3 linked regions of the Homo sapiens genome follow. The protein of the gene in region 3 interacts with the protein of the main gene of each other region in a pairwise test. Each region holds a gene or a part of one and is shown on either strand. Other genes may lie near its edges.

Region 1 (7,813 bases), on a different chromosome or scaffold from region 3:
ACGTTAGTATAAATTTAATTTGCCTTTTTTGTTTTTGAGATGGAGTCTTGCTGTATTGCCCAGGCGGGAGTGATCTTGGCTCACTGCAACCTCCACCTCCCAGGTTCAAGCGATTCTCAGCCTCCCAAGTAGCTTAGACTACAGGTACATGCCACTATGCCTGGCCAATTTTTGTATTTTTGGTAGGGACGGGTTTCACCATGTTGGCCAGGCTGGTCTCGAACTCCTGACCTCAGATGATTTGCCTGCCTCGGCCTCCAAAAGTGCTGGGATTACAGGCATGAGCCACTGTGTGCCTGGCCTAATTTGCTTTGTTTTGACATTGAAAGAATCCTGACTAAAAGGTCTGCTACTATGGTCACAGTAAATATTGTCGACAAAAAGTATCAAACTCTTTAAAACATTTAAAGAGGATTATTCTTTTTTTTTTTTTTTTTAGACAAACTCTCACTCTGTTGCCCAAACTGGAGTGCAATGGCGTGATCTTGGCTCACTGCAACCCCCACCTCCCGGGTTCAAGTGATTCTCCCACCTCAGCCTCCTGAGTAGGGGACTACAGGCACGCGCCACCATGCCTGGCTAAAATTTTGGTATTTTTAGTACAGACCGGGTTTCACTATGTTGGCTAGGCTGGTCTTGAACTCCTGACCTTGTGATCCGCCCACCTTGGCCTCCCAAAGTGCTGGGATTACAGGTGTGAGCCACCGTGCCCGGCCCTGAAGAGGTTTATTCTAAACAAAATATGAGTGACCAAGGCCTGAGGCATAGTCCCAAGAGGTACTGAGAATATGTGCCCAAGACTGTTGGGTTACAGCTTGGTTTTAATACAATTTAGGGAGACATAACACACCAATCAATACATTTGGGGTATACATTGGTTTGGTTGGGGAAGGTGGGACAACTTGAAGAGGGTTTGGGGGAGGGCTTATAGGTCATAGGTGGATTAAAAGATTTCCTGATTGGCAATTGGTTGAAAGAGTGAAGTTACTATTTAAAGACCTGGAATAAACAGAAAGGAATGCCTGGATTAAGATAAGGGGTGGTGGACACTAAGGTTCTTATTATGTAGATGAAGTCTCCTAGGTGGCCATCCTTAGAGACAATAGATGGCAAATGTTTCCTATTCTGACCTGTAAAAGGGGCTAGACTCTCAGCTAATCTCTTCAGAATTGGGAGGGCCTGGAAGGGGGAAACATCTAATTATGTTGATAGAGATTCTTTTTTTTTTTTTTTTTTTTTTTTTTTAGATGGAGTTTTTTGCTCTTCTTGCCCAGGCTGGAGTGCAATGGTGCGATCTTGGCTCACTGCAATCTCTGCCTCCTGGGTTCAGGTGATTCTCCCGCCTCACCCTCCAGAGTAGCTGGGATTACAGGAGCCCACCACTACGGCCGGCTAAATTTTTAGTAGAGACGGGGCTTCACCATGTTGGCCGGGCTGACCTCAGGTGATCCACATGCCTCGGCCTCCCAAAGTGCTGGGATTGCAGGTGTGAGCCACTGCACCCAGCCAACAGAGATTCTTAACAGATGCAATTACCTCTCTCCCCACAAAATAGCTTTGCAGGGGCATTTCAAAATACGGCAAAGAAATATATTTTGAGGTAAAATACTTTGATTTCCTTTATCTGTCATGTGATGTTATGCCAGAGTCAAGTTGGAAAGTAAGCCATATTATATAAGTTTACATAAAACCCATCTGATAACTTTTCTTTTTTTTGAGACGGAGTCTCGTTCTGTTGCCCAGGCTGGAGTGCAGTGGCACGATATTGGCTCACTGCAACCTCCACCTCCTGGGTTCATGTGATTCTCCTGCCTCAGCCTCCTGAGGAGCTGGGATTACAGGCACACACCACCACGCCCAGCTAATTTTTTGTGTATTTTTGGTAGACGGGGTTTCACTATGTTGGCCAGACTGGTCTCGAACTCCTGACCTCGTGATCCACCCACCTCAGCCTCCCAAAGTGCTGGGATTACAGGCGTGAGCCACCGCGCCCGGCCCATTTGATAACATTTTATGTTTTGTAGGGTGTGACTCCACAGGCCCCTTAGATAGGAATTCGGGGAGGAGGGGAAAAATGTCAGAGTTAAGTCCTCAGTATCATCTCCTTTAAGGTGTTTCCACAGTTCAAACAGTACCTTGTCAAAAGAAAGAAGAGACCAGGATAGACTACGAAAGAATTAGATTTACACAGTGAAGTTACTCACTGGAAACACTGTGTATGGGTGTGGTATTAGATTGTGAAGTCAGGCTGGGTGTGGTGGCTCACACCTGCAATCCCAGCATTTTGGGAGGCTGAGGCAGAAGGATCACCAGAGCCCAGAGTTTGAGGCCAGCCTGGGCAATACAGTGAGCCCTCATCTCTATATATTAAAAAAAAAACAACAACTGCAAAGTCAATGCATAAGACAAAAATCCATTTAGGCTCAGCCATAAAAAGGAATGAAGTAATGATTCATGTTACAACATGGATGAACCTTTAAAATATATTGATGAGTGAAGTAATATGTGTACAAAGGCCACATATTGTATAATTTCACTTATATGAAATGTCCAGAATAGGTAAATCTACACAGACAGAAAGTAGATTAGTGATTGCCAGGAGTTGGAGGGCATGGCAGGGTGCAGAATGATAAAAGCCTGTACAAGCCTTCTTTTTGGGATGAACATGTTCTGGAATTAGATAGTAGTAATGGTTGCACAACTTTTGGAATAAACTGAAAACCAATGAATTGTACACTCATCTGAAGGGGTAAATATTATGGCATGTGAATTATATCTCAGAAAAATCTATTTTGGCTAAATTACCATTGAAAGTCCTTTTCAAAGAGTCTAATTCAGCTGTTTTTACTTTCAGCATAAAAATAAATGGCCTTTGAAACTTTTTAGAGTACTAGATAAATAGTATGTTTGCATTTGGGAGTCCTGTTATAAAAAATGTATCTTATAACTTGAGTCACACTAAATTATGTGAGATTCTCACATTATAAAGGGTAAGGAAGTGAATCAGAAGCATTGAAAAGGGATTGTGTGTAACATGTTATCTCTTGCAAAAGGAAATTAAATTTTGGGACCCCAAACTGATTTAGCCAAAGGGAAAAGTCACGCTGGGACTGGTCACGCAAATCTGCCTCCCCCTTTTGGTTCCTAAATAAGATTGCTGCAAGATGAAAAGCTACATCTCTCCCCCGTATTTTGCCCACAAGGAAATTCTTAGTGTGCTGTTAAAACTTCATGGCAATGCAAATTGATAGCTTATCTTTACAGGTGGCCACCCCAGCCCGCCAGACACAAATGCCTATCTGATTGTTCCCCTACCCCATTTTGTCTGTTATCTTATGAAAAATGCAGACTCCCACATTCTTCCTCTGCCCATTTTATGTCATCTTATGTAAAAAATGCAGATTCACTGAGCCAGAGAAAGGCAAGAATTACTATTTTCTCCTACCGCCCCCTTACATGAAAACGGTGTGCTTCTCAATATCCCGCCCTTTCCCCTTTAAATTTGGAGCACTCAAAATCATCTTCGAAGAAAGGCATAGACCTGTTTCCTGGGCTCGTACTTAACTTCGGCAAATAAATCTCCTAAAGTGATGGACTCTCTTATAAATTAATCTGTAGCCAAGGCATGTCATCAATATGTCCTACTGTGCCTTCCTACCTCCCATTTATCAACTTACATGAGAAGCACACATCTTACTTGTCATAAATTATTACCTTAGTGAAAACCTGAGGGTGTCAAGAAGTCGAAAAATTTGAGACATTGACGTTGGGGAAGACACCTTTAATTAGAGCACCATAAAATCATGATAGAATGATACATTTTTCCTTGCCTTATATTTTTGGCATGCAAAACAGAAGGAGCTCAAACAATTGAGTGACACATTAGTAAAATTCCTTTCATTCATTTCTACTTACAAGGCACACACCATTGACCTCACCCCGTCCCCCCCTTTAAAACAATATTTGACCCGCGCCCCCCCCCCTTTAAAGCAATCTTTGAAAAGTTAGGAATGAAAGCCGGTTCAGGACAGTACACAGTACACAAATACTGGCTTCCCCTACCTCCACCACAAGCAAGTAAACATCCTAGCACAGTGTAAAAAGGAAGAGGCTGAGGACGAACCACGCGGACATTTGCAGGCACACCCCTTCCCTGCGACCAACAAAAATGCAGTAGCGCAATTACACTTGAAGGAATTGCAGCACTCACAAAAGCACACATTCTGTTCAATGGTTGAGTCCACATAAAGTGACAGTCCGTTTCTAAAAGCATGGCTGTATTTAAAGGACACATGGTCTGTTCAGGTCCGCTTCAGCGAAACCCCAAGCACTTCCGAGAGATCCACTCCCTCTCTCCGAGCAGGTGCCACTAGCTGCTCCGCCGGCGAGCGTAGGAAGCAGCGCGACCAACCAAATCGGTTGCCCACAACAGCCAGGGACGTCAAAAAGGCCAAACTGCGTGGGAAGCGAGCGTGCGCCTCCATCACCACGACAGCACCCGTCTCGAGGCTCCACCTGCCGCTAGTAGGTGGCTCTCAGCTCTGCTCTGCTAAGGGCGAGCTTGAGAACCCGGCCTACAGTTGTGCACCTCCCCCCGCCCCCGCCCCCGCCCCCGCCCCCGCCCACCGCACTTGTAGCCCCGCCCCGCCCAGGGAGCTTCCGTCACAACACTTCCGGCTCCAGCCTCCCAACCGGCCTCCGTCGTTTTTCACTTCCCTCTCCTCAGCTCTCTTCCCTTGCCCCTACCGTCTCCTTTAACACAGTCACGTGAGGGACGCGCGCGGGGGCAGCTGGGAGTAGTACTGCCGGTTGGTCAGGGTTCGGCCTCAACATGGCGGTTCCGGCCGGGCAGTGACCAAGGTTTTGCCGTCCGAAGGACTAAGTGGTGACTGTCGGCGTCTCCACCTATCGGGGTGGAATGCGAGCACGCGGGGACGAGCGCTGAGAAGCGGCGGTGACGGGAAGGGGGGGGTCAGTGGATTGTGCCCCAGAAACCGAAGCGGCGGCGTCTGTTCCTTCTTGTTTCTAGGCTCCAGTGCGTTCGGGGCCCCGCCCGGCCGGGCCAGGCCGGCGGGCGGCGGCGGTAGCTGCTGCAGCCGCAGGATAACCTCGCAGGGTGGGCCGGAGGGCGGGCGCCGCCGCTGCCTGTGCTGCGGCGATGGCCCAGTGTGTACAATCAGTGCAGGAGCTAATCCCGGACTCCTTCGTCCCCTGTGTCGCTGCGCTGTGCAGCGACGAAGCCGAGCGGCTCACTCGTCTCAATCACCTCAGCTTCGCGGAGCTGCTTAAGCCCTTCTCCCGCCTCACTTCCGAGGGTATGTGGTATCCTCCCTTTTCCAGTGGGCTCCCGCAAAGCCGTGGTCGGGAGAAGGAAGTTGCGGGCGGGCAGGGAAGAGAAGGGCAGTGTTTACGTCCTGGAGCCGGTACCGTGGCGTCTGGGGCTGTGGCCCCGCGGTGCTCCGGGGGCGGCTGGAGGAGGGACCGTGAGGTTGTCAAGACAGCGCAGTCCTAAGCTCCAGTTTCTCTGGGCACTTCCTTTCTTCCTCGGACAACCTAGGTCGTTAAGTAATTGGTGCAAAGATAAACGTGAGTCTTCGAGAACGGCATTGAGACTGTTCTCCACGGCCATAGCGAAGGAATTAGGCACTTGCAAAGCAGCTAAGGTAGGAAAATGCTGCCTCTTAGACCGACAGGGTCTGAGTAAGGAAGACCTGTCATCCTCCCTTGGATGTTAAACTGGACTTTGAAAGTAGTTGTGGATGTTATTACATTCTTGTAGCGTTGAGGGTCATCTCTGTCTGAACTACCGTGTAGCTGTTTTACTAATATATTCTTAGCTATACGGTATTTTGCTTAACCTCTCAAGAAAATTAAAAGTATTATAAGAAGAATAAAACTTGAAGCAGCTTTTTGCCCTAAGGAAGAGGAAGCAAGCCCAAGTTGTGGTTAATTTAACCTGGATATTTGGAGTTATCTATAGTTATAGGGATGGAAATGTCTTCTCTTGTTAATGAATGTCTTGTTAAGAAGCTACCCGTTTTCTCCAGTTTTGGATTTTTTTATTAGGAGAAAATAATGTGGTAAAGCTTCAAGCATGTTTTAGCCAATATCTTGCAAACAACAAAGTCCAAGTAAAGTTTTTTTTGTTAAGGTCGGTAAGAACTGAAGGGTTTCATAATAAGCCTGTGTCAGGCAAACGACTGTGATGTTTGTTAGCTTAATATGACTTATCCACAAAAAAAATCAGTGCTGTACCATTTTTGCGCTACCATGTTTTTTGGGAGAATAGTTCCATTATAAATTAGCTTTTGTTTTTAGCGGAGAGAGGGAGCTGTCCAAAAAAACAAAGTTTGGAAACTTTTGGATTTTCTTTAGCCTGTATCGTAGCCATCAGTCTCAGTTCCTTCAGTGTTGGACTTAAGAGCAACAAAATGCCCTACGTTTTTTATTTTTTTGTTATTTATTTATTTATTTATTTTGAGATGGAGTTTCGCTCTTGTTGCCCAGACTGGAGTGCAGTGGCGCGATCTCAGCCCACCGCCACCTCCGCCTCCCAGGTTCAAGCGATTCTCCTGCCTCAGCCTTCTGAGTAACTGAGATTACAGGCATGCGCCACCATACTCGGATAATTTTTGTATTTTTAGTAGAGACAGGGTTTCTCCATGTTGGTCAGGTTGGTCTCGAACTCCCGACCTCAGGTGATCTGCCCGCCTCGGCCTCGCAAAGTGCGGGGATTATGGGCGTGAGCCACCGCGCCCGGCCTTGAATTCCTAAAAAAACACAAACACTTGAGCTAGTTTTACTTTTATATGTGTACTCTTTCCTTCTTTCTTAATAAATAATAATAATGCTAATACCTGATACTTGCTTTGTGTAACTTTTCTTTTTTAGTCCTCATTGAATCCTGTTATTGCAATTTTAAATTTGAGGACCTTGAAGCATAGAAGTGTTAATTTGTTCACAGTTTTGCGTCTGGGAAAGATTTGAAACAGGCAGTGTGACTCAAGACATTGTGTTCTTAATCATCTTATCTCCTGACAGTATTTAGAATTATGTATTTACACCATAGAGCAGTGCTGTCTAATTGAAATATAATGTGAGTCACAGGTATAATTAAAAAATTTTCGGCCGGGCGCGGTGGCTCACGCTTGTAATCCCAGCTCTTTGGGAGGCCGAGGCGGGTGGATCACGAGGTCAGGAGTTCGAGACCATCCTGGCCAACATGGTGAAACCCCGTTTCTACTAAAAATACAAAAATTAGCTGGGCGTGGTGGTGGGCGCCTGTAGTCCCAGCTACTCGAGAAGCTGAGGCAGGAGAATCACTTGAACCCGGGAGGCACAGTGAGACTCCATCTCAAAACCAACCAAACAAACAACAACAACAAAAAATTTTAGTAGCCACATTAAAAAAGTAAAAAGAAACAAGTGAAATTAGTTTTTTTGTTTTTTGTTTTTTGGAGATGGAGTCTTGCCCTGTTGCCCAGGCTGGGAGTGCAGTGGCGCGATCTTGGCTCACTACAACCTCTGCCTCCCAGGTTCAAGCGATTTTCCAGCCTCAGCCTCCCGAGTAGCTGGGATTACAGGCGCTCACGGCTTATTTTTGTATTTTTAGTAGAGACAGGGTTTCACCATGTTGGCCAGGCTGGTCTCGAACTCCTGACCTCGTGGTCCGCCCGCCTCCGCCTCCCAAAGTGCTGGGATTACAGGCGTGAGCCACCGTGCCCGGCCGAAATTAGTTTTAATACTGTATTTTATTTAACTCAGTATTTCCAAAATGTTACTATTTCAATGTGTAATCAATGTGAAAAATATT
Region 2 (7,276 bases), on a different chromosome or scaffold from region 3:
TCAAAAGGCTAAGGATCCAGTTAAAAAGGTTTATTCAACTGTAAAGTGTAAGGGCAGTCATATGGGAACATGTAGACACCAAAGAATGCTGATCAGTGCTTCCAGCGTAAGGAAAATTGAAGATGGTTTATATAAGACAAAATGGAGATGCCAAACAGAATTACAACATTTTCCAAACAATGGATAACATCCAGATTTAAGATCTGATTGGCTAGTATTGATTACACTCTAAGGTGGTTGCTTAATATTCTATCGTAAAAAAGTAACAATCACAAGGGTCTACAGCTCTAATATTATGTAGTCCAGGTTTGAAACGAAGAATAGGGAGTCTGATTAATGTATAACATCTCAACACAAAGGTCGGGAAGCAACAATAGTCATGCACCAGAGAAGAAAAACAGCTGTATTACATGACTCAGTTTTCAAGGCTTAACTTTGCCCCCTTGGCTTAATAAATTTGGAAGGTTCTGAAATTTCATTGTCTTTTTAAAGTTTGCATCTCAAAGTATAAGTCGCAGAACTGAACAGGAAATTCCAGCATGTTCATCATGTAAGTTCACAGAGCTATGTAGTAGGCAGAATAATGGCCTCCAGAAGATAACTGTTGAGATTCCGGAACCTCTGACTATGTTATATATGACAAGAGGCTTTGAAGATGTCATTAAATTAAGTATTTTGAGATGGGAAGATTATCCTGGATTGTGTGCTGGACTCAGTGTAATCACAAGGATCCTTATAAGTGAAAGAAGGAAGCAGAGTCAGGGAGAAGTTTGAAGATGTTCTGCTGCTGGCTTTGAAGATGGAGGAAGATGGAGGAAGGGGCCACAAACCAAGCAAGCCTCCTCTAGAAATTGGAAACGGTGAGGAAATGATTTCTTCCCTAGAGCATCCAGAAGGAATGCACCCTTGCCAACACTTGATTTTAGCTCAGTGAAACTCAATTTGGACTTCTGACTTACAAAATGCTACCTGTTTTTGGCTCCTTCCATTTTCTTTTCCTTTTTTTTTTTTTTTTTTTTTTTTTTTTGAGAAGGAGTCTCCTACTGTCGCCCAGGCTGGAGTGCAGTGGCATGATCTCAGCTCACTGCAAGCTCCGCCTCCCTGATCTCAGCTCACTGCAAGCTCCGCCTCCCGTGTTCACGCCGTTCTCCTGCCTCGGCCTCCTGATTATCTGGGACTACAGGCGCCTGCCACCACGCCCAGCGAATTTTTTATATTTTTAGTAAAGACGGGGTTTGACCATGTTAGCCAGGATGGTCTCAATCTCCTGACCTCGTGATCCGCCTGCCTTGGCCTCCCAAAGTGCTGGGATTACAGGCGTGAGCCACCGCACCTGGCCCAACTCCTTCCATTTTCAAAGCCAATAATGGAGCTTTTTTTTTTTTTTCGAGACAGAGTCTTACCCTGTTGCCAAGGCTGCAATGGCATGATCTCGGCTCACTGCAACCTCCGCCTCACAGGTTCAAACGATTCTCCTGCCTCAGCCTCCCGAGTAGCTGGGATTACAGGCTCCTGCCACCATGCCCAACTATTTTTGGTATTTTTAGTAGAGACAGGGTTTCACCATGTTGGCCAGGCTGGTCTCAAACGCCTGACCTCATGATAGCCCACCTCGGCCTCCCAAAGTGCTGGGATTACAGTCGTGAGTCACCACACCCGGCCGAGCATTTTCAAATCTCAGACTCTCACCTCTGCCTCTGTGGTCACATCTCCTTCTCTTACTCTCACTCTTCTGTGTCTCTCTTTCACTTACAAGGGCTGTTGTGATTACTTTGGGCCCACCTAGATAATGCAGGAACCTCCCTATTCCAAGATCCTTAACTTAATCACATCTACAAAATCCCACTTACCATGTAAAGTAACATATTCACAGGCTCCAGGGATTAGGACATGGGCATCTTCTGCCTAGCACACTGAGTTTGCGTGATGCCAGTCAATAAGGTTGAAATGGAAAGAAATGAGGTAGAAGCAGCAGCAATGGGCCTGATCACACAGGGCCCTATAAGCCAAGGTAAGGATGTTGGATTTTATTCTGTGATGTTATACACTAGCATATTACCAGCAGGAGAGTGACATTATGATTTATATTTTATAAAGATCATTTTGGGTGCTGTGTGGCAAATTAACTACAATGGAAGCAGATAGGTTATCCAACTAGGAGCCTTTCAAAGTACTCCAGGAAAGAGATGTTAGTAGCTTGGATTAGAGTAGTGGAGATAGAGGAGATAAGTGATTAGATCCTTGGTGATGTGTGTTGAAAGTACAGAGAGAAGGTTTAAGGATGATTTCAAGGCTTTTTGGCTGGAGTGACTGGGTGAATGGTGGTACAGCAGATACAGAATCCTGCAAAAGGAGGTTTTGGTTTGTTTGTTGTGGAGGGAGTCAAAATAAAATTGCAGTGCCTGGTAGCCATCTAAGTGGAGGTGGTCAATAGGCTGTAATGTATGTCACAGACCAGTCTGGAATTAAGGGAAGAGGTAGGTCAAGAGACAAATACTTGAGAGTCACTACTCTATAGATGGTAAAGCCTTCAGATGGAATGAAAGCTGACCATGTTATTTATTATCCAAACCAGCACACATTTTTTTATTTTGACAATTTCAGACACATAAAAGTTGCAAGAATAATACATAGAATTTGCATATGCCTTTCAGTCAGATTCTCCAAATGTTAACATTTTATTGTAATTGCTTTATCCTTTTCTATTTCTCTAATTACCTATAGACAGACACTTTTTCTCTGAACTATTTGAAAGTAAGTTGCGGACATGATACCCATAGCCTTAAATACTTCAGTGGGTTTTTCCTACAAAGACATTCCCTTGTATCAGTAGTTCTTAAAGTATGGTTCCCGGGCCAGCAGCAACTGTATCACCTGGAAAGTTAGAAACCTAACTTGTAGGGCCCCACCCCAGATCAACTGATTTTGACAATTTTTCTGTGGTTATGAAAGGAAATTAACATGACTTCAAAACTATTATCTAATTTATAGGCATTATTTAGATTTTACGAATTGTCCCAGTAATGTCTTTGATAGCAAAAGTACCAAATGGACACTTTTGAGATTAAAGGCAACCACATTCAATAATTTTGCCAAGACAAGGGTAGTAATGTAATCATAAAAGGCAGCTGAGCTCACATCTGTAATCCCAGCACTTTGGGAGGCTGAGGCGGGTGGAACACCTGAGGTCAGAAGTTTGAGAACAGCCTGGCCAGCATGGGGAAACCCTGTCTCTACTAAAAATACAAAAATTAGCCAGGTGTGGTGGTGCGCGCCTGTAGTCCTAGCTACTTGGGAGGCTGAGGCATGAGAATCACTCGAACTCGGGAGGCAGAGGTTGCAATGAGCCGAGATTGTGCCACTGCAGTCGAGCCTGGGCGACAGAGCAAGAATCTATCTAAAAAAAAAAAAGGCATTGAGGAGGTATACTTTTTCTTAATACGTACACTTAGAGGTCTGGTATGATAACTGTAATTGTCTATAGGATTTTATAAATGGATGTCCTTAGTGACCTTGACAAGAGGGAAATGGACTCAAAAATGAAAGATAAGAAAGCAGACATGGTATGTAGAAAACTTCTTTATAAAACGAGCAAAGATACGGAGGGGGATGTGGGATTAAGGAAGGTTTTTTTTTTTAAAGTGGGTCATTTTATTAATACATTATGTTGATTGCTGCTGGGAAAAATTCTTTGCAGAGCAGTCTAGGGAGGTTTACAAACTACTGATGCCTGGGGCTCATCTCCAAAGATTCTTATTTAATGGATCTGGGCTGCAGCCAGGTTCACGGGGATTTTTAAAAGCTCCCCAAGTGATCTTAATGTGTAGTCAAGATTGAGAACCACTGGTAGAGAGAGAAAAAAACTCTGTTGAAGAGAGGACTTAAAATCTGCTGCAGCAGCAAGACCTTAAATAATCTAAGTGCTAAGTTGCAGCCAGCACCACTTAAATTATCAAATCTTGTCAGTTACAGTATCCAACTTTCCCTACAAGCATCCATAGGCAGACGAAGGGTTTATACCAGTAACTGCATTCCCCAGGAGACAAGAAAGGAGGATAGAAAAACGACTTAGGAATCTCCTTGGAGCTCAAGACCAGGAACTTCCCCAAGCCGGAGGTCCCTGAGGCGCTCTAGCGCGCTGGCCGCACTCGCAGCCCAGGTCGCCAGTGCGCACGCGCAAGATTAGGTGGGGCGCCAGAGCCGGGGCACCTGCGCAGGCTTGGCTGCGCCCTCTCGCGCCGCACGCTCTGCGGGTTCCTCCCTTCTTCCGAGCCTCTCCTCTGGCCGCCGCGCGGGAGAGAGGCCGAGATGGCAGATGAGATTGCCAAGGCTCAGGTCGCTCGGCCTGGTGGCGACACGATCTTTGGGAAGATCATCCGCAAGGAAATACCAGCCAAAATCATTTTTGAGGATGACCGGGTAGGTACTGGGCACCACCTCTCTCGCCTGCTGAGGTGGGTATCGTCCGCGGATCCTCGGGTTTCTCGCGGAGGGAGAGGAGGGGTCGCGAGTGTAGCGGCGACGGGAGGGGACCTGGCTGCCCTGGTCCAGCGGGCCCCCAGCCAGCGGACAGGGCCCGGGCACTCCGAGGCGGCCTGCCGGCGCGTGCCGGCGCTCCGGTTACTCGTTATCTGCCCCGGGCGCGGGCCAGGCCGCCGGGCGCCCTGAGTGCCGCACCGCGGGGCCTGGGCGCGTGTCGGGGCGCACTGGGGCCCCCGCGTGGAAGCCCGCCGGTTCCCCGGCTGCCTCGGACCTTGCCTGTATCAGGAATCTCGAAATCTCGCCAGCGCTCTGCCTGACAGAGAGAAACCCGATCGCGCCCTGACTCAGGCCCAATCTCCGCGATCTCCCGCGCACAGCCGGCCTGCCAGGGCCCGGCGTTCCTGGGCGCTGCTCAGCAAGGCATTGTGCTCGAGGGCCCCAGGGGCGCTGGGAGGTGCGCGGGCCGTCTGGGCCTGCCGGCTTCCTCCGCGGGGTGCGGCTTGCCACCCTCACCCCTACCCCTATCCCTATCTCCACCCCAAGGCCTACCCTGGGCTAGCGAGGCGATCTCCTGAGATAAGAAGTGGGCCCGCGTCTGGGATTTGCTTTCCGTTGACCTCTCCCGCTGAACATTTTGGACTTACAAACAGCTGAATGATTCTTTTTGTATTCAACAGGAAGTAATTTTATGCCAAGAGACTAAGACTGTAGTTTTTGTTGACTTCTTGTAGGTGAAATCCCAGTTGATGTGACTTTGAGATATCTTGTGTAAATTATTTAGTGGCCAGTTGTATTTTTGGGATTGGATCTCAGATAAAGCTGGGCAGATTGGCTGATTTAGATAGAACAAATTTTGTAAACAGTTTTGTTAAATTTAGGAAATATAAAATCTAAGAAAAACATTTATTCTACTAATGTCGGTTAGATTCAAAACGTTATCAAAAATTTAATTAGGTTCCTCTAGGTAAATTAAAAAAAAAAATACTTTGTCTCTACTCAGGGGAAATTCTTTGGTTTTAGAAAAAATATTTCTTTTTAAAGTTCGCAGTTGCCTTTGAGAAATGGTTCTTGAAAAATTTACATTTGAACCACCGAAGTCCAACTGTAGAACGGCAGGAAGCATTCTAAATGAATCAGCATTTTGTAGGGAGTACCCAGTAGAATTACTCCTGAGACAAATAAGTGTGGATGGGTTTTATTAAAACAGCTTTCACTTCAGCAGTGAGCAAGAGATTCGAAAATATTCATGTCATATGTGTATTTACAGACACTGTTTTAAATAATTAGTCTAAATGCTAAAGAATATCATATATATACTCTTCAGCTTTACACAAAAGGATAGGTATATTTCTTAAATAGTTGAGTAAAGTGAGAATAGATATTAATCAAGTATCAGACAAATATGTAGTTACAAAACTGATTGCTATCATAAAGAAAAAAAAAAAACCAGGAAATTGCACAACTAGGACTCTGACCTGGGAGTAATGGGACGGGGAGGGCAATCAGAGGTTTTTTTCTGTTTTTTCTTTTTTCTCCCAGAAATCATGTATGTGCTGGGAATGGAATGGCGGAATGACTAGCAGTTTAAATTAGACGGAAGTTGGGGTTTGGAGGGGGAGAGGATCATTGAAAAAGCTCTGAGGGCAGAGAGCTCAGAAGGCCAGTTCCATGTGAAGACCTGCAGGAGATCTGGAGAGGCAGGCAAGGATTAGCATGGCCAATTTTTATGCATTCATTGGCTCCCAGTTTAAATGTCACTGCCTCAGAGTTGTTCTTAAACACTTAATCTAAATCAGGCTTTTCCTGTAATGATCATTCATATTTTTCCTTTGTAACATGTATGACCTTTGGTGATTATACTTTTAAAGTTGGTCTTCCCATAAGACTTCCATGGAGTCCGGGTGCAGTAGCTCACGCCTGTAATCCCAGCACTCTGGGAGGCCGAGGCAGGTGGATCACCTGAGGTCAGGAGTTCGAGACCAGCCTGGACAACATGGTGAAACCCCGTCTCTACAAAAACACAAAAATTAGCTGGGCATGATGGCACGTGCCTGTAATCCCAGCTACTTGGGAGGCCGAGGCAAGAGAATCACTTGAACCCAGGAGGCGGAGGTTGCAGTGAGCTGAGATCATGCCATTGCACTACAGCCTGGGTGACAGAGTGAGATTCCATCTCAAAAAAAAAAAGACTTCCATGGAAAGGACCACGGCACCATTCGTAATGTGTACACTTCTGTTTTCTTAGCATCTAGTGCCCTCCATGTAGTTACTGCTCAGTAAATACTTGTTGAAATAAGTTTTATCCTACCAATATACTAAAAGTTTGATTTATTTATTTATTTCTCTTTTCCCTAGTGCCTTGCTTTCCATGACATTTCCCCTCAAGCACCAACACATTTTCTGGTGATACCCAAGAAACATATATCCCAGATTTCTGTGGCAGAAGATGATGATGAAAGTGTAAGTACATTTCTAACATGATTTATTTTCTTGCTTTTTAAATTGTGAGATTAATTTTGTCCTTAAAGTGCTGTCACATTTTCATCTTCCTAAGGTCATTACTAAGGAAAAACCAGAAAAACCATTAGGACTTCAACTGCCCAGCTGTTTTCCAAAGTTACTGCATCATTTTGTATCCCACCAGCAATGAATGAGCGTTCCAGCTTCTCCGTATCCTTATCAACACTTGCTATTACCTTTTTTTTTTTTTTTTGAGACAGAGTCTTGCTCTGTCGCCCAGGCTGCAGTGCAGTGGCACTCGGCTCACTGCAAGCTCCACCTCCCTGGTTCACAC
Region 3 (7,022 bases):
AATCAGGGGAGTGCAGAGTGCAAGAGCAGAGGCTGCACAGCCCCATGTCCCCATGGGGGAGGGGGCTGCTGGCCAGGGAGTGAGGCCAAGGCCTGGAGCCCAGCACAGTGCGGCCAGAGGACAGAAAGGGCATCGGCACAGATGCTGAAGTTGCCAAGGAGGGGACAGAGGCTGCTGGAGAGAAACAGGAGGGACTAGAGGCCTCCTTGAGAGCAGGAGTGCCCTGGAAGTTGGTCAAGGACAGAAAAGCCCATGGAAGGGGCCTGAGGAGGCACACAGCTGCTCTTCAAAAGGGCAAAAGGCACTGTGCCTATCAAAACCTGACACAGCTTACAACCATTGTGACAAAGGGTCAAAATCATAAAGAGCTCACACAAATTCCAAGAGAGCTTTTCCTTTAGACTTCATTACAGAAGCAGTCAAAATACACGAAATAACTCAATCATGCACTCACAAAATACAGTTTGCAAAAATGCCTGAACTTATTAGTCATCAAAGCACTGGAGAATATGAGAACAAGATAATCATCTTTCATTTATCAATTTAGGAAATACCTAGACGATGAAATAGTCAATGCTGGTTTGTGGGTGAGGTAAAATAAATACTCATATTCTGGAACAACTTGCCTGAAGAAATATTTAACTATTTTAAGAGGTTTAAAATGTCCACACCATTTGATCCTGGAATTCCCCTCCAGGAAACTATTTCTGGTTGTACAACTTGTATTAAGAATGTGTTTTTATAAAAACACTAAAATTAAATACATGTTAGACATGGTTGAAAGATAACTTTCTCATATAACAAGCAGACCACAAGAAGGATACTCATATCATAATAGGTAGAGCAAATCTTAATAGTTCATGATATTTACAAAAGGACTTGTAAAATATTTTCCTACAGCGAAAAAAGAACAAGATGGTTTGATTGTAGACAATTTTGGGTGTATCTTTATTTAATAAATAATTATTGACTATGACATGGGCACAATTACTATTCTAGGTATTAAGGATATAGCAATGAATAAACCAAGTACTTATATTCTAGTAGTGGGAGACAGATACTAACAAATAAATCAGTAAGTACAGATATGTCAGGTGATACTAGGATGAAGAAAGTAGAATAAGGGGGCAGAGCGACGGGAGCAATGATGAATCCGTTGGATGGCAGACTGTCCGAACACACTGACAACAGCTGCGGGTGGGCCTCTTGCTGACACTTCAGGGCCATCATGGGGTCAATATGCACCTGGTGATTACTGAAAAATTAATTCTCCCTTACTGTTTTTATGGGAGAATAAGTCCCAAGTTTTAGATGCCCAGACATACAAACATATTTCTAGCACACACTCTGTTTCAAGTTGCTAGGCTACTTAGAAGCAGTGAAAAAAATGCTACACTATGAAGTTGTTAAAGCTTCAAAAGGCAAACGAGGTTAAGATACGTGTGTGTCACTTCAGATGCACAGGAGAATTTCTTACCCCAAGTTTTCGCCTTTCTGAAGGGGCTCTAAGCAGATCTCAATTCTCCGTCCTAGTTTATATTCCCTGATAATAAGTGAAACAAGATAATATTGAGTGACATAACATTTAATTTTCTTGAATTTTTTTTCCCCCAATTTTAAGCTTTTTTCTTAAGCAAAGAATTGTTTTCTGAGTACTTATAAGAACACCCAAACTTTTGGAAAAGGGGAAAAAATGAGAATCCTTGCTGCGGTGATTATTTAGATACTTGAGTCATTTCTTACTAAACATGTAGGTCTGGCTCTGGGAAGATGGCCAAACTGCCAAAGAAATTTCCCTCTGTTCAGCCGGGGTTAAGATTCTCATGCCAGTCACTTTGGGGTGGTAATCAGAACCGATTAAAAGCAGCCTTGGCCAGGCACAGTGGCTCACGCCAGTAACCCAGCACTTTGGGAGGCCAAGGTGGAAGGATTGCTTGAGGCTAGGAGTTCGCGACCAGACTGGGCAACATAGGGAGACCTCGTCAAAACAAAAAATTAGCCTGGTGTCGTGGCACATGCCTGAGGTCCCAGCTACACAGGAGGCTGAGGTGGGAGGATCACTTGAGCCCAGGAGGTTGAGGCTGTAGTTGAGCCATGATCACGCCACTGCACTCCAGCCTGGGCGACAGAGCCAGACCCTGTCTATTAAGAAAAGAAAGAAAAGGAAAGAAAGGAAAGAAAGAAAAGAAAGAAACGAGAAAGAAAGAAACAAAAAGCCTCAAGGCTGCTTTTTGCAAAGGAAATGACCCAAACCTGCTCTTTAAGTTCAAAGTTTCAGGAGGAGGATCAGCTGAATCCAACATTTCTGAGTGAGAAACAGCCACTCCTACTTTCCATCTCACTCCAAATGCTTTTAAGTTATATAATGTCACAGTCACTGGAGCACAGAAAAAATATACAACACTACATTTATACTTAACATGGAAAACTGAAGGCCTGCTGGAGTTTATGATGAAAAGTGTCACCCAAGTCACAAGCGTGGCATGACCAGGAATGGGCTTTGTTGTCACTCAGCTCAGAAGACTGATTCCTCCTCCATCCCTCACACCAGCCAGTGCGTCAGCAGCAGAGAGGGACAGTGTTGCGTCCAGCAAGGAACCTACCTGAGTGGCTGCCGGTCAGTTCGTAAAAGCCTGCCTGGGCGCTTCCTCTCCACCGTCCAGGCTCTGAGGTGGGCTGGGGACGGGACACCGAACTCCAGGAAAGGAGGCAAGGTCATGGCCTAGAAAAAGAAACAGACATTTCTCCAACGGTTTTAAAAAGCACTCTTCAAAACATACTGTTTTAGAAAAAAAAAATGAAGCACTACACAGTGGCATCTCAAGGAAAGAGTATCTCAAGTAATGATAACATCATTTTAAAAGTCACAGGAATCTCTCTCTCTCTTAAATAACACTAACCCTGAGCGGTCTTCATATTCCTCTGCACTGAAATCACCTTGAGAAAGAAGTGAGTTCCCTCTCTCTAAATCTGAGTCAAAAGCTTCTTTTTAATCATCATGTTTAAAAAATGAAACTTTGGAATTAACTTCCATGGGAGTAGAATTCACCAGGGCAGAGCCCGCTCTAACAGTACAACAAGGGACACAACAGCAGCCTTCTTCCGTGCCCGCGCAATCCTCCACCAGTGTCTGCTCTGCCGATGAATCAGCTTTTGATTCTGAAGTATTTCAAAATCTTTGGCTGCAATCAGTAGGCCCAAACTGCTTGTTCTAATTCTGAAGGGATCACTTTAAGCCCCTACTGATATACTTAGGTTGGAGCCTCTAAAATTACCAATATTCATCCATTTTTTGACCTAAAAACAGCAATTTTATATCTTTCAACTTAATATGAGAAAAAAAAAGTATTTTCCCATTTGTTCTCATGAGAATAAGGCTGTCTGCTTTTTCTTTTCTCCTTTTTTTTTTTTTTTTTTTTTGAGACGGAGTCTCACTCTGTCACCCAGCCTGAAGTGCAGTGGCGCAATCTCAGCTCATTGCAACCTCCCTGTCCTGGGTTCAAGTGATTCTCCTGCCTCAGCCTCCGAGTAGCTGGGATTACAGGTGCCTGCCACCGTGCCAGGTGAATTTTTTTTTTTTTTGTACTTTTAGCAGAGACAGGGTTTTACCATGTTGGCCAGGTTGGTCCCAAACTCCTGACCTCAAGTGATCCGCCTGCCTCAGACTCCTAAAGTGCTGGGATTATAGGCATGAGCCACCACACCCAGCCAACATATGCTTTTTCTTGAGGAAGGGTATTTCATATACTGAGGGCGCACAAAAGCCAAACATCAACAACCACTAGTCATATATAGGCCCCACATTTTCTCCTCTAAGAGAAGAAAGGAATGCTCATTTCAGTCCAACAGTAGGCGGATGCTGCTTCAACACTGCATTGTGCTTAATCCAGCCCTTCCATTTGGATAAAACCCTCCTTCTCTGTGAACGTTAATGCATAAGAAACAACACAATACCTAGAATATCTAGTTTAGCATCCTAACATAAAAGCTGGAGTTCTAACCTCCTGGAAAACTGGTAACACAGCTTTTCATAACAACATTTAACATATGGGTCACAATGGTACACAAACAATGTAAATAAAGGGATAAAGTGAATGCTTTACAAATGTTCCAAGAAACCATGTTTCCCTAAAAAAATAAAAATGAACAAAAGCCGCAAGTCACTGAGGATAGATTGAAACAAAAGCACAGCATGCCTGTCAGAGGAGGGACCAGTGAGGCCACGAGGAGCCGTCTGCACCATGGGCGTGTATTGCCTGCGGGTACTTACCACTGAACATGGCATATGACAAATGCCATATCAGAACAGACTGTAATTGAGGGAAAAGGAGATAGAAGAATATATTAATATCTCACTGGAAGAAGCCACATTACCACTAAGTTATGGTGCAGGAAGAAGTCTGACCTGAGACTTCAGCTCCGCCAGCGTGGCATCTTCTGAGATCTCTATGTCTCCCAAGTAGAGGAGAGAAACTTGCGCAGGCTCGTTCCCAGAAGCACCTTCCAAAGGACAGAGCGGGATGTTTACAAGGAACTTGAAACTTATTTTGTGTTTCTGAAATACATTGCCATGTTTTGATATTGTAAATAGGTTATTAAAATTCCACTCAAGAGCCTCTGCATCCAAGTCTTATGAGGAGGCCCTGTCTGGCAGGTAAGCAGGCAGGGACATGTTGTCGGCAGACTCCCAAGAGGTCTGTGACACTTATGCCCCTACCTTGAATGTACTTTTCCACATTCTCTCCTTCCTCAAAGAGGACTTTTTGGGTAGGATATGCTGGCTGCATTCTGTATGTTAGCTTCCTGTTTCCTCATCATAACACTCATCCCAACCTGTTCCTCGTGTGTGTGTGTGTGTGTGTGTGTGTGTGTGTCTGTCTGTCTGTGTGCAGGCGTTTAATCTGCCTCCTCAAAACAACAGAATTTTCAAGAGGAGGCAGGCCATCTATCTTGTCTCCCCAGTTCCTGGTACAATGGGTGCCACATAGTAAATGCCCAATAAATGTTTATTTATAAGGAAATCTTGACAATAAGAAGGCCTTTCCAAGTTTGTTTAAAAAAAGGGAAAAACACAATGCTTTCTCATCAAAAACAATATAAAAGCTGGCAACTAAATTTAGACTGTCTTCACTTATTTTTGCCTTAACTGTCTTTACTGCTGAGCATGCCACTAATGCATAGCAAGAAATTACAGAGAGATTAGAAGTCAACTAAGTGCATGAGAAGTTCCTCTTGTGTCTTAAGGAAATTACAGGCTGACACTACCGGAAAGATAATTTTAGGAAATTCTAAAGAATGAAATATATAATCACCTGCTACATAATGATTTGGTCAAAGACCACACATGTGATGTGATCCTATAAGATTATAATACTGTATTTTCACTGTACCTTTTTCTGTTTAGATACACAAACACCTGCCACTGTGTTATGATTCGCCTTCAGTATTCAATACAGTAAGCTGCTGTACAGGTCTGTAGCCTATGAGCAAGAGGCTACACCACATAGCCTAGGTGTGTAGGAGGCTCTACCATCTAGGTTTGTGTAAATCACTCTACCGTGTTCACATAATGATGAAATCATCTGACGATGCATTTCTCAAAACATATTCATGTTGTTAAGTGACACATGAGTGCATTTCCCATGTGTTGTGTACAGATGTATTACCAAAAAAAGAACCTTTTATTTACTTTTCACGTAGAAACATACTGATTAAACATGCTTTTACAATCTATATCCAATTCTATATGTAACTAGAATTCTATCACCAAGGCATTTTTAGCATTAGTTAACATGAACTACTGTAACCCAACTAAAAAGTAACTTTATGCCAATTTTATAGCTCATTCAACATTACTCTCTCTATATAATCCTAACTTCAAAGAATAAGGAGATAAGAATTTGACTCATTTATATTAATTTTATTACTGAGGCTGAAAAGATTAAAAAGAAATATAAGTAATATACTTCAAGGCACTAGAAAAACTAAATAAGTAAAGCCTGATAAAAAGAAAAACATAGCTAAAGAGTTGGGCCTATTAAAAATATACTCGCTCCATTTCTTTATAATGAAGTGGAACTCCTCTTTGTACAAGGGCAACAGAACTCACTGATAGTGACTTCTGCCCATCGTGATGTGTGCGGCTGAGTGCTGAGTAAGACAACATGCTTGTACTTGTCTATGTTCCTTCTCAGAAGTCAGTGAGATGATATCAAATGCCCTAGAAGCAGTTCCTGAGGGTTTTGAGGCAGAAAGATTGGAAGACATGTAGGATGTGGACTCCTGGTCTCTGCCCCTGTGGGCTAAAATGACATCATTAGAATTGGATGAAGTCTCAATATTCTGGTACGTGGTGATAAATGGGGCCCCTGTTGCCCTGAGGATCTTGAGAGATGATACATAAAAGTCTTTGGAAAGTGTAATATATTGATATAATAATAAACAACAAGATATATAGTGCTTTACAGAGGTTACAGAGCACGTACAGAAATGGCACAGTGTTATTATTATGTGATGTCTGGAATGACTTATGAAATTAATAGGTCTTGATTTTCAAGATCTTACGTTTTAAAAATAAATATATCAATTGACTCTCAGAGCACAGGCAGTCAATTTACTTCTCTTTATGATGCACTGGCTGCTGAAATCCCATTCTGTTCTCACCTTGGCTGGAAGTGGCTCTCCAAACTCTGCCCCAAGACGAAGTACAGTTGGTCTGGTCCTGATGACTCTCCCAGTGTCCTGAGGGACCCTGAAGCTGGTACCACCAGATGGGCACCTTCAGGAAACCCTGAAGAATGGAGCATGTTTAACTGCTGTGATTACAAAGATTAAGTGAAACTCTACTTTTACTTCCATAGAAAGAAACACCTTGATGACCTAAGATGTTCTTGAACTTATCATTTTTCCTTTTAGATTTATTAACTGTCATAAATTATACTTGTTTTTACAATCAAAAATTTAAAATCATAAAAATCAGACTTTGGGGTGACTGGACTAAATATCCCTTGCTTAAAGGTATC

What was found. The genes of interacting proteins can lie anywhere in the genome.
Region 1: the proteins of USP40 (region 3) and TRAPPC8 interact in a two-hybrid assay, tested with the Homo sapiens proteins (one study listed by BioGRID).
Region 2: the proteins of USP40 (region 3) and HINT1 interact in a two-hybrid assay, tested with the Homo sapiens proteins (one study listed by BioGRID).

Annotation. Positions count from the first base shown.
Region 1 is NC_000018.10:31,940,110-31,947,922, reverse strand, and holds the start of TRAPPC8 (trafficking protein particle complex subunit 8), read left to right. Parts: upstream 1-4,794; 5' UTR 4,795-5,158; coding exon 5,159-5,315; intron 5,316-7,813. UniProt on the Homo sapiens protein: Plays a role in endoplasmic reticulum to Golgi apparatus trafficking at a very early stage. Maintains together with TBC1D14 the cycling pool of ATG9 required for initiation of autophagy. Involved in collagen secretion.
Region 2 is NC_000005.10:131,162,238-131,169,513, reverse strand, and holds the start of HINT1 (adenosine 5'-monophosphoramidase HINT1), read left to right. Parts: upstream 1-4,257; 5' UTR 4,258-4,308; coding exon 4,309-4,419; exon of another isoform or gene 4,420-4,454; intron 4,455-6,837; coding exon 6,838-6,942; coding exon of another isoform or gene 6,943-6,963; exon of another isoform or gene 6,964-7,036; coding exon of another isoform or gene 7,037-7,132; exon of another isoform or gene 7,133-7,276. UniProt on the Homo sapiens protein: Exhibits adenosine 5'-monophosphoramidase activity, hydrolyzing purine nucleotide phosphoramidates with a single phosphate group such as adenosine 5'monophosphoramidate (AMP-NH2) to yield AMP and NH2.
Region 3 is NC_000002.12:233,486,762-233,493,783, forward strand, and holds part of USP40 (ubiquitin carboxyl-terminal hydrolase 40), read right to left. Parts: intron 6,791-7,022; coding exon 6,664-6,790; intron 4,501-6,663; coding exon 4,406-4,500; intron 4,311-4,405; coding exon of another isoform or gene 4,271-4,310; intron 3,138-4,270; exon of another isoform or gene 2,901-3,137; intron 2,723-2,900; coding exon 2,604-2,722; intron 1,544-2,603; coding exon 1,478-1,543; intron 1,256-1,477; coding exon of another isoform or gene 1,003-1,255; exon of another isoform or gene 920-1,002; intron 1-919. UniProt on the Homo sapiens protein: May be catalytically inactive.